Linked DNA regions of Homo sapiens. The protein of the gene in region 2 interacts with the protein of the main gene of each other region in a pairwise test. Each region holds a gene or a part of one and is shown on either strand. Other genes may lie near its edges.

Region 1 (3,821 bases), on a different chromosome or scaffold from region 2:
ATCTTACATGGCAAAATTGATTTCAGAAATGTAATTAAGGTTACTAATTAGTTGAATCTGAGATAATGAAAAAGGAGATGGCTATCTGAGTGAACACTCAAAAGCAGAGTTTTCCCTGGCTGGTGGCAGAGTAGAAGTTAAAGATTTGAAGTATGAGAAGGGGTTAATGTGCTGTAGCTGGTTTAAACACAAAGGGGCCCTAGGAGAAGAAATGTGGGTGGCCTCCAGGAACAGAGAATAGTCTGGCTGACAGCCTGCAAGGAAAACAGGGACCTCAGACCTCAAGGCACAAGGAAGTAAATTCTTTTTTAGTTTTTCCTCTTTTTTTTTTTTTTTTTGAGATGGAGTCTTACTCTGTTGCCCAGGCTGGAGTGCAATGGTGCGATCTTGGCTCACTGCAACCTCTGCCTCTGCCTAGGTGAAGGGTATATGGGGTTCAAGCAATCCTCCTGCCTCAGCCTCCCGAGTATCTGTGATTACAGGCGCTTGCCACCACACCTGGCTAATTTTTGTATTTTTAGTAGAGACAGCATTTCACCATGTTGGCCAGGCTGGTCTCAAACTCCTGATCACAAGTGATCTACCTGCCTCGGCCTCCCAAACTGCTGGTTTTACAGGTGTGAGCCACTGTGCCTGGCCACAAGGAACTAAATTCTGTCAACAACCTGAATGAGCTTGGAAACAGATTCTTCCCCAGAGCCTCCAGGTAAGAGCCTAGCCCGGCCAAGACCTTGACTTTGGCCTTGTAAAATCTTGAGCAGGGAAACCCAGCCAGATTTATAATCTACAGAACTACAAGGGTGTTGTTTCACATGCAATACATGCTCAGTTTGTGGTAATTTGTTGCACAGCAGAAAACCAATATATCAAGTAATTAAAGTTAATATTACTTATAATGGGTGACAGAATATCTCCTGATGTGATACATGAGGATACAACTTCACCTATGTTGTATTCCTGACAAAAATACATTAATCTAATCATGATGGGATGATCAAACAAAATGGAGAAACATGTGGGCATTAGTATGATAACTGAGGAGTTTTTAATATAGACCCTAACTTAGATAGTTGTGTTGAAACAATGTTTACTGTGATAATTGTATTATGATTTCATGGAAGAGTATTCTTCATCCTGGGAGATACATGCTGATATATATGGGGGTGAAGTATCATGAGGTCTCAAACAGTTTAGCCAAGAAGCAAACGGAAAGAAAAAGAAATATATTCACATCCCACACATATACATAGATATGGAAAATATCACCAAGGCGTTAACAACTGGTGAATCTAGGTGAAGGGTATATGGGGTTTCAATGTACTAATTCATTCAACTTTTCTGTAGGTTTGAAATTGTTCAAAGTAAAAAATTGAGGAAGAACATTTTTTAAAAATGTATTAAGCAAAACAAACAAAATCCTAACAATTTTTACAGAATATGCTTGTTAACTGTTTTTTGTTCTTTTTTCCCTGCTCCCATAAATACCTGTGTTCGAACTATAGTTTCAGGTGTTAGCAATATTTAAACAGTTTTAGCTGGTAAAAAGGCATTTTGAATAAGGGCCCTATCTTAGATAGTTGTATTGAGTCAATGTTATTTATTGTAATAACTACTAAGTAAAAGAAACTATAAATAAAAACTGTAAATAAGATAAACTATTGGGGTAGAATTAGAATGGACAGTCAAAGCTACTGCCAATGCAAGACTAGAGATCTTTTATAGATTCTAAGGATTAAATTTGTTCTTTGAAAATAAATGAGACTTTTTAATAGGCAAGGTATTAATGAAAATTGTGCCAATTTAGAACCAAACCATGTTAATGCTTACCCCAGCAAGGCTCCAATTATGCCACCAGCCACCAGGCCACGCAGGCCTACGTTTATCCTAAAAAGACTTCCCGTGACAGCTATTTAAAAACAAGAAAGGCAATATTAAATCATCTTTAAAACTAGAATCCTATTTTAAAACTTTCCTTCTACAAAAAGGAAATCCCTAAGTGAGCTTTCTGAATCCAATGTTAATATACTACTACAGCCTATACTTCCTGAATCTAAAATGCCAACACAGGTAGCTTCCCATCCACTCTGCAGATTCAAAGGAAGACACATCCCTTCTACAAAAGTAAATCTTCAATATGTTCTATGGATCCATTCATTCTGCTTCATTTTTGCCCATCTCTCCTTAAAAATCTGAAAATGTTTTTCCCCTTCTCTTTCTTTCTTCTTTCTTCAAGGAAAATAAAAAAGCAAAAAACCTTCACTAGCCCCTCCAGTTTATGCCTTCCCCTAGACTCACTCTCTCTGTACTGCTACATGGCACCACTCAGGCAGGGTGACAAGCAAGCAGCATTTGGCCTACAATGCTACCTGGTGACCAGTGCACAGAAAGACTTCTTTCCTTTCTGCTGGGACTGTGCATCAATCATGCTCATTCATTTTCCTTTCACTATGCACAATGCAACTAATGCCATCTAAGGTGGTAACACTTTTTAAATAATAACATTTGAAGCCAGGTGCAATGGCTCACACCTGTAATCCCAACACTTTGGGAGGCCAAGGCAGGCGGATCACTTGAGGTCAGGAGTTCTAAGTCAGCCTGGACAACATGGCAAAACCCTGCCTCTACTAAAGATACAAAAATTAGCTGGGTATTGTGGTGCACGCCTGTAATCCCAGCTACTCAGGAGGCGGAGGCACAAGAATTGTTTGAACCCCAGAGGCGGAGGCTGCAGTGAGCAGATATCACACTCCTGCACTCTAGCCTCAGCGGAAGAATGAGACTGTCTCAAAAAACAAAATAAATAACAGTTGAGGTTTATATTTTTAAGTACTATATATTCATTTTTAAAATTTTCAAAATTAACAAGAATCAAAATCACCTTTAATCCCATTACCCAGAGTCAGTAATAAGTTAGTCTTTTTTTCTGATCCTCCAAACAAAATAAAACAAAAAACAAAAACAACAACTGGGGCCGGGCACGGTGGCTCACACCTGTAATCCCAGCACTTTAGGAGGCCGAGACGGGTGGATCACGAAAGTCAGGAATTCAAGACCAGCCTGGCCAAGATGCTGAAACCCCGTCTCTACTAAAAATACAAAAATTAGCCGGGCATGGCGGCACACACCTGTAATCCTAGCTACTCAGGAGGCTGAGGCAGGAGAATCACTTGAACCCAGGCGGCAGAGGTTGCAGTGAGCCGAGATCGCGTCACTGCACTCTTGCCTGGACAAAAGAGCAAGACTCTGTCTAAAAAAACAAAATAAAACAAAAACACAAAAACTGGGGCCATGGTGTACATACTAAATTTTTTATTTTCACAGAACATATTATTAAATTCTGTATCACTGAGTTTTCTCCCACCTAGTTCCATTGCATGGAGGTACCACAAATTTTTGTCTAACACTTAGATTTTCTATTTATAGATATTTTAAATAAAGGTATGATGATAATCCCTCCACAAATAATCTTTTTATACATTTGATTGTTTCCTTAGGACAAACTCACAGAAATGAAATTTCTGGGCCAAAAGGTATAAGTATAAACATTTTTAAGGCTTTTGACTTAAATTACTAAACTGCTATTCAAAAAGGATGCATAAACTTATTTTCCAAATAAAAGTATGCAAGTAATCTAGTCTTCTGCATTCTCTTAGTTTATTTTTTCCAATTTGATAGGCCAGAAGTGGTATGTAATTTTTAAGTTGCATTTCTCTGATTAGTAGAAAAAAGTTGTTTTTCCCTAGGTTTACAAGTTATTTGTGGTACGTCTGTGAATTACAAATTCATGTCCTTTGTCCAGTCTTCAACTGAGCTATCCTTTC
Region 2 (3,821 bases):
TGGGGTGGCCTGCGCCTGCAGTCCCAGCTACTTGGGAGGCTGAACTGGGAGGATCACTTGAGCCTGGGGGATAGAGGTTGCAGTGAACCATGATTGCGTCACTCTACTCCAACCTGGGTGACAGAGCAAGACTCTGTCTCAAAAATAATAATAATAATAATAAAATAAAAATAAATAAAACTCTGAGTCAAATATGCATGTCTGCATTCTGATGTTAGCTCACATGCCAAATGAGGCCTGGGGACTGTCAGTGTGCCCCCTCTGATTTCCTACGTCACTTTCTGCTCTGCTGAAATGAGCAACTACCCCTAACTCCCTACACCCCCATGCCTTCTGAAGCTGCATACATGGGCTGCTCTGCCCTTGGCATGTGCTGTTGAGGGCTGAGCCCACTGCTCTTCTACCCCAAACTGCTGTAGGCTACAAGGGTAAGTAAATGTGCTGGATCACAGGGCAGCTCCATGGTGACAGTTGTTTTCTTTGATCCTGTTTTCATCCAGACAGATCGAGTGGAGGCACACCAAGCCCTCCGAGCGTCACTCTTCACTCTCCTTGTCATGGTCACACTCACCCACTGTTTTCATGCTAGGTCACACCGAGGAGGACCTGACCAGCCTACAGTAGGAGATACAGAACAGAGGCTTCCTCCTTCTGGTACCAGTACCAGGGGACCTGCCACATCCCGTATCATCCCTGAACAAGGAAGATGGCTTCTAAAAATAAAGGCAGAACTTTGGGGGGAATTTCTTAAGCATGATATTAGTGAAAGTACATGGAACCAAGAGTCCTGAATGCAGGCAAAGCCCTAATATCCTTGCTATGTGAAATGAGACAGTGACATTATAATTCTCACCTCCCCCTACCAAGTAAGTCACTGCATATAAATGTGCTGTGAAAGCTGTAAAGCACTACACAGAAGTTTGAGGCAGTACCTAAATGATTATTCAGTGAATTAATGTAAAGGGAAATTTTTTTACATCCTTTGATATTAGGAACAGAAGGAAATGCAAGAGTGGCGCAGTCATTTATGGAGTGAATAGAAAACCATGTGCTTTTCACATTTTTAAGATAGAAAGTGGAATATAACAGATTTTTAACTGCCTGGGAATATACTTCGATAAGCCCTTCCCAGCAGCGGGTTTGTGATAGAAGGTCTCCCCCGAGTGGCTGAAAAGTAAAGTACACCTGAACTGCTCCGCTATGCGGTCTCACTTTCAGAAAGAGGTTCTCTCCAACGGAAAGAGGAACTGAACCCCCTTCGCATGATGGGGCTAATTCCCCATATATAAGAAAGAAAAAAACCTGCCTTTTGCCTAGGTCTAACCTATTGACGAATTTGACCATTTTAAGGTTAGATTTTAAAGAAGGCTTTTTTTTTTTTTTTTGAGATGGAGTCTCACTCTTGTTGCACAGGCTGGAGTGCATTGGCATGATCTCGGCTCATTGCAGCCTCCAGCTCTCCAACTCCTGGGTACAAGCAATTCTCCTGCCTCAGCCTCCCAAGTAGCTGGGACTACAGGTGTGTGCCACTACACCAAAAATTTTTTTTTTTTTTAGTACAGACAGGGTTTCGCCATATTGGCCAGGCTAGTTTTGAACTCTAGCCTCAAGTGATCCACCCGCCTTGGCCTCCCAAAGTGTTGGAATTACAGGCCTGAGCCACCGCACCCGGCCAAGAAGCACTTTTTGATCTCCTGTCTGGATCATTCTCTTCCTCACCATCTTCTGTCTCTCTCTTGTCTTGGCAGGCTTCCATTACCTGCCAGAGTTCTCCATATTGGGAAATCCTGCTGTCTCCTCTAGCCACCCTGGTGTTCCTCCTTTACCTCTTACCTCCAGTCCAGAACAGGACTCAATAAACATTTGGTTGATAGCTGAATGAAAGAACCATCCCTCTCACTATTTAACTTCTTGCCATTGGCTTCTAACCTCGGCGTTTTACTGAAACTACTTTTTGACAAACATCACTGACTCCCTTATTGCCCAAATTGAGGGACTTCATTCCTAAAGGCTATTCAGCTGCATATGCCATAGTTAGCCATTTCCCTTGCCTTTGAAAAATGTCCTTTAGTCTCTGGGATCGTATCTCCTCTCATTCCATCGTTAGGATTAATTGCTATTGCTTCTGCATTTCCACAATGTGTTGTCTGAAGTCCAGTTCAGCATTTTTTTATTCTTCAAAGTATTACATTTAGCCATTGACAACTGGCTGTTTGCCCCTCTGAACTATAAAATCCCTCAGGATCCTCTATCCCATGGCCACCCTGCCCTCTATAATCTTTCACAGTCTTGCATGTGGTAGGGACTCATCAATGAGGTCTACCATACAGCACAAGTCTAGTTCTTCTCTCTGGTCCATGATCCCTTTACTTCTCCTTTGCTGGAGGTATTCTTCCACCTGATCCTTGGGGGAAAGAATCCTCTGTCTCTCACTAACTCTCTTCTTTCCTGGGGCATCCTTGATTCTCCTATAAGGCGTCTAGATGAACCACTACTACAGGTATCTAACAGGATGGGTTGATCTCAATGTCAAACATTTGGTTCCATGTGTTCTGATGCTTGGTCCAAAATGTCCTGGTCTACCCCATACTCTAACAACTCTACCCTACACTCTGACGACTCCCAGTCCCACCAGAAGTCTAGGCCCACCGGAGTGCAAGTGATCCTTCCACCTCAGCTTCCCAAGTAGCTGGGACTACAGGCGCATGCCACAACGTCTGGCTAATTTTTGTAGAGGCAGGATCTTACTGTGTTACCCTGACTGGTCTTCATCTCCTGGACTCAAGCAATCCTCCTGCCTCAGCCTCCCAAAGTGCTGGGATTACAGGCATGAACCACAGCACCTGGCCTAGGCCCATGTTTCTAACCTCGATATCTCATCATATCCTCAGAATCATCAACTCTAACCAAACTCATCCACTTCCACCTACTAAATTATTTATCCCTGTTAGGGGCCTTATTTCTGGTCAAGGGAATAAATTCTTTGGTTCACCTAAGATAAAAACTTAGAAGTCATCTTTGATTCATCATGCCACTTCATTCTTGTGTTAATCATTTGCCAACACCCATCAGATTTCCCCTATTTGAAACGTGAACTAGTAGAACTGCCTTCTCCTTGCCCTCCTAATGCCAAGCTCTCCAAGCCATCCCAGGCATTGCTTCTGTCTAACACTCATCTAATAATACTCTTTCTATTTGCTTTACCGTTCGAAAGTCTGCAGGTTGGGCGTGGTGGTTCACGCCTGTAATCCCAGCACTTTAGGAGGCCAAGGAGGGCAGATCACGAGGTGCAGAGATCAAGACCATCCTGGCTAACACGGTGAAATCCCGTCTCTACTAAAAATACAAAAACTAGCTGGGCATGGTGGTGCACGCCTGTAATCCCAGCTAGTGCCTGTAATCCCAGCTATTTGGGAGGCTGAGACAGGAGAACTGCTTGAACCTGAGAGGCAGAGGTTGCAGTGAGCCGAGATCGCGCCATTGCACTCCAGCCTAGGCAACAAGGGCGAAACTCCGTCTCAAAAAAAAAAAAAGTCTTCAAAGTCTTACTCTGGTCACCTAGGCCAAGTACAAGCCTCTCTGCCTGCCTCTTACAGCCACTACACCCTTGCACAGTTATCCCCGGCTGCAGTGATTTCTCACTCTATCCTGAAATGAACTATCCACCACACTGGAGCTGGTATCATCCTCTCTACTTAACATTCCACGCTCCCTTTCACCACCAAACACCTTCATTCACACTGTCCCTCTACCCTCTTTTACTAAAGATAGATAGTTGAAGTGTTTAAGAAAGAAATTAAAGGCCAGGTGCGGTGGCTCAC

What was found.
Region 1: the proteins of DRAM1 (region 2) and TIMMDC1 interact in binary tests that used the Homo sapiens proteins (3 or more experiments, as listed by UniProt).

Annotation. Positions count from the first base shown.
Region 1 is NC_000003.12:119,511,726-119,515,546, reverse strand, and holds part of TIMMDC1 (complex I assembly factor TIMMDC1, mitochondrial isoform 1 precursor), read right to left. Parts: intron 1,907-3,821; coding exon 1,828-1,906; intron 1-1,827.
Region 2 is NC_000012.12:101,915,259-101,919,079, reverse strand, and holds part of DRAM1 (DNA damage-regulated autophagy modulator protein 1), read right to left. Parts: intron 1-3,821. UniProt on the Homo sapiens protein: Lysosomal modulator of autophagy that plays a central role in p53/TP53-mediated apoptosis. Not involved in p73/TP73-mediated autophagy.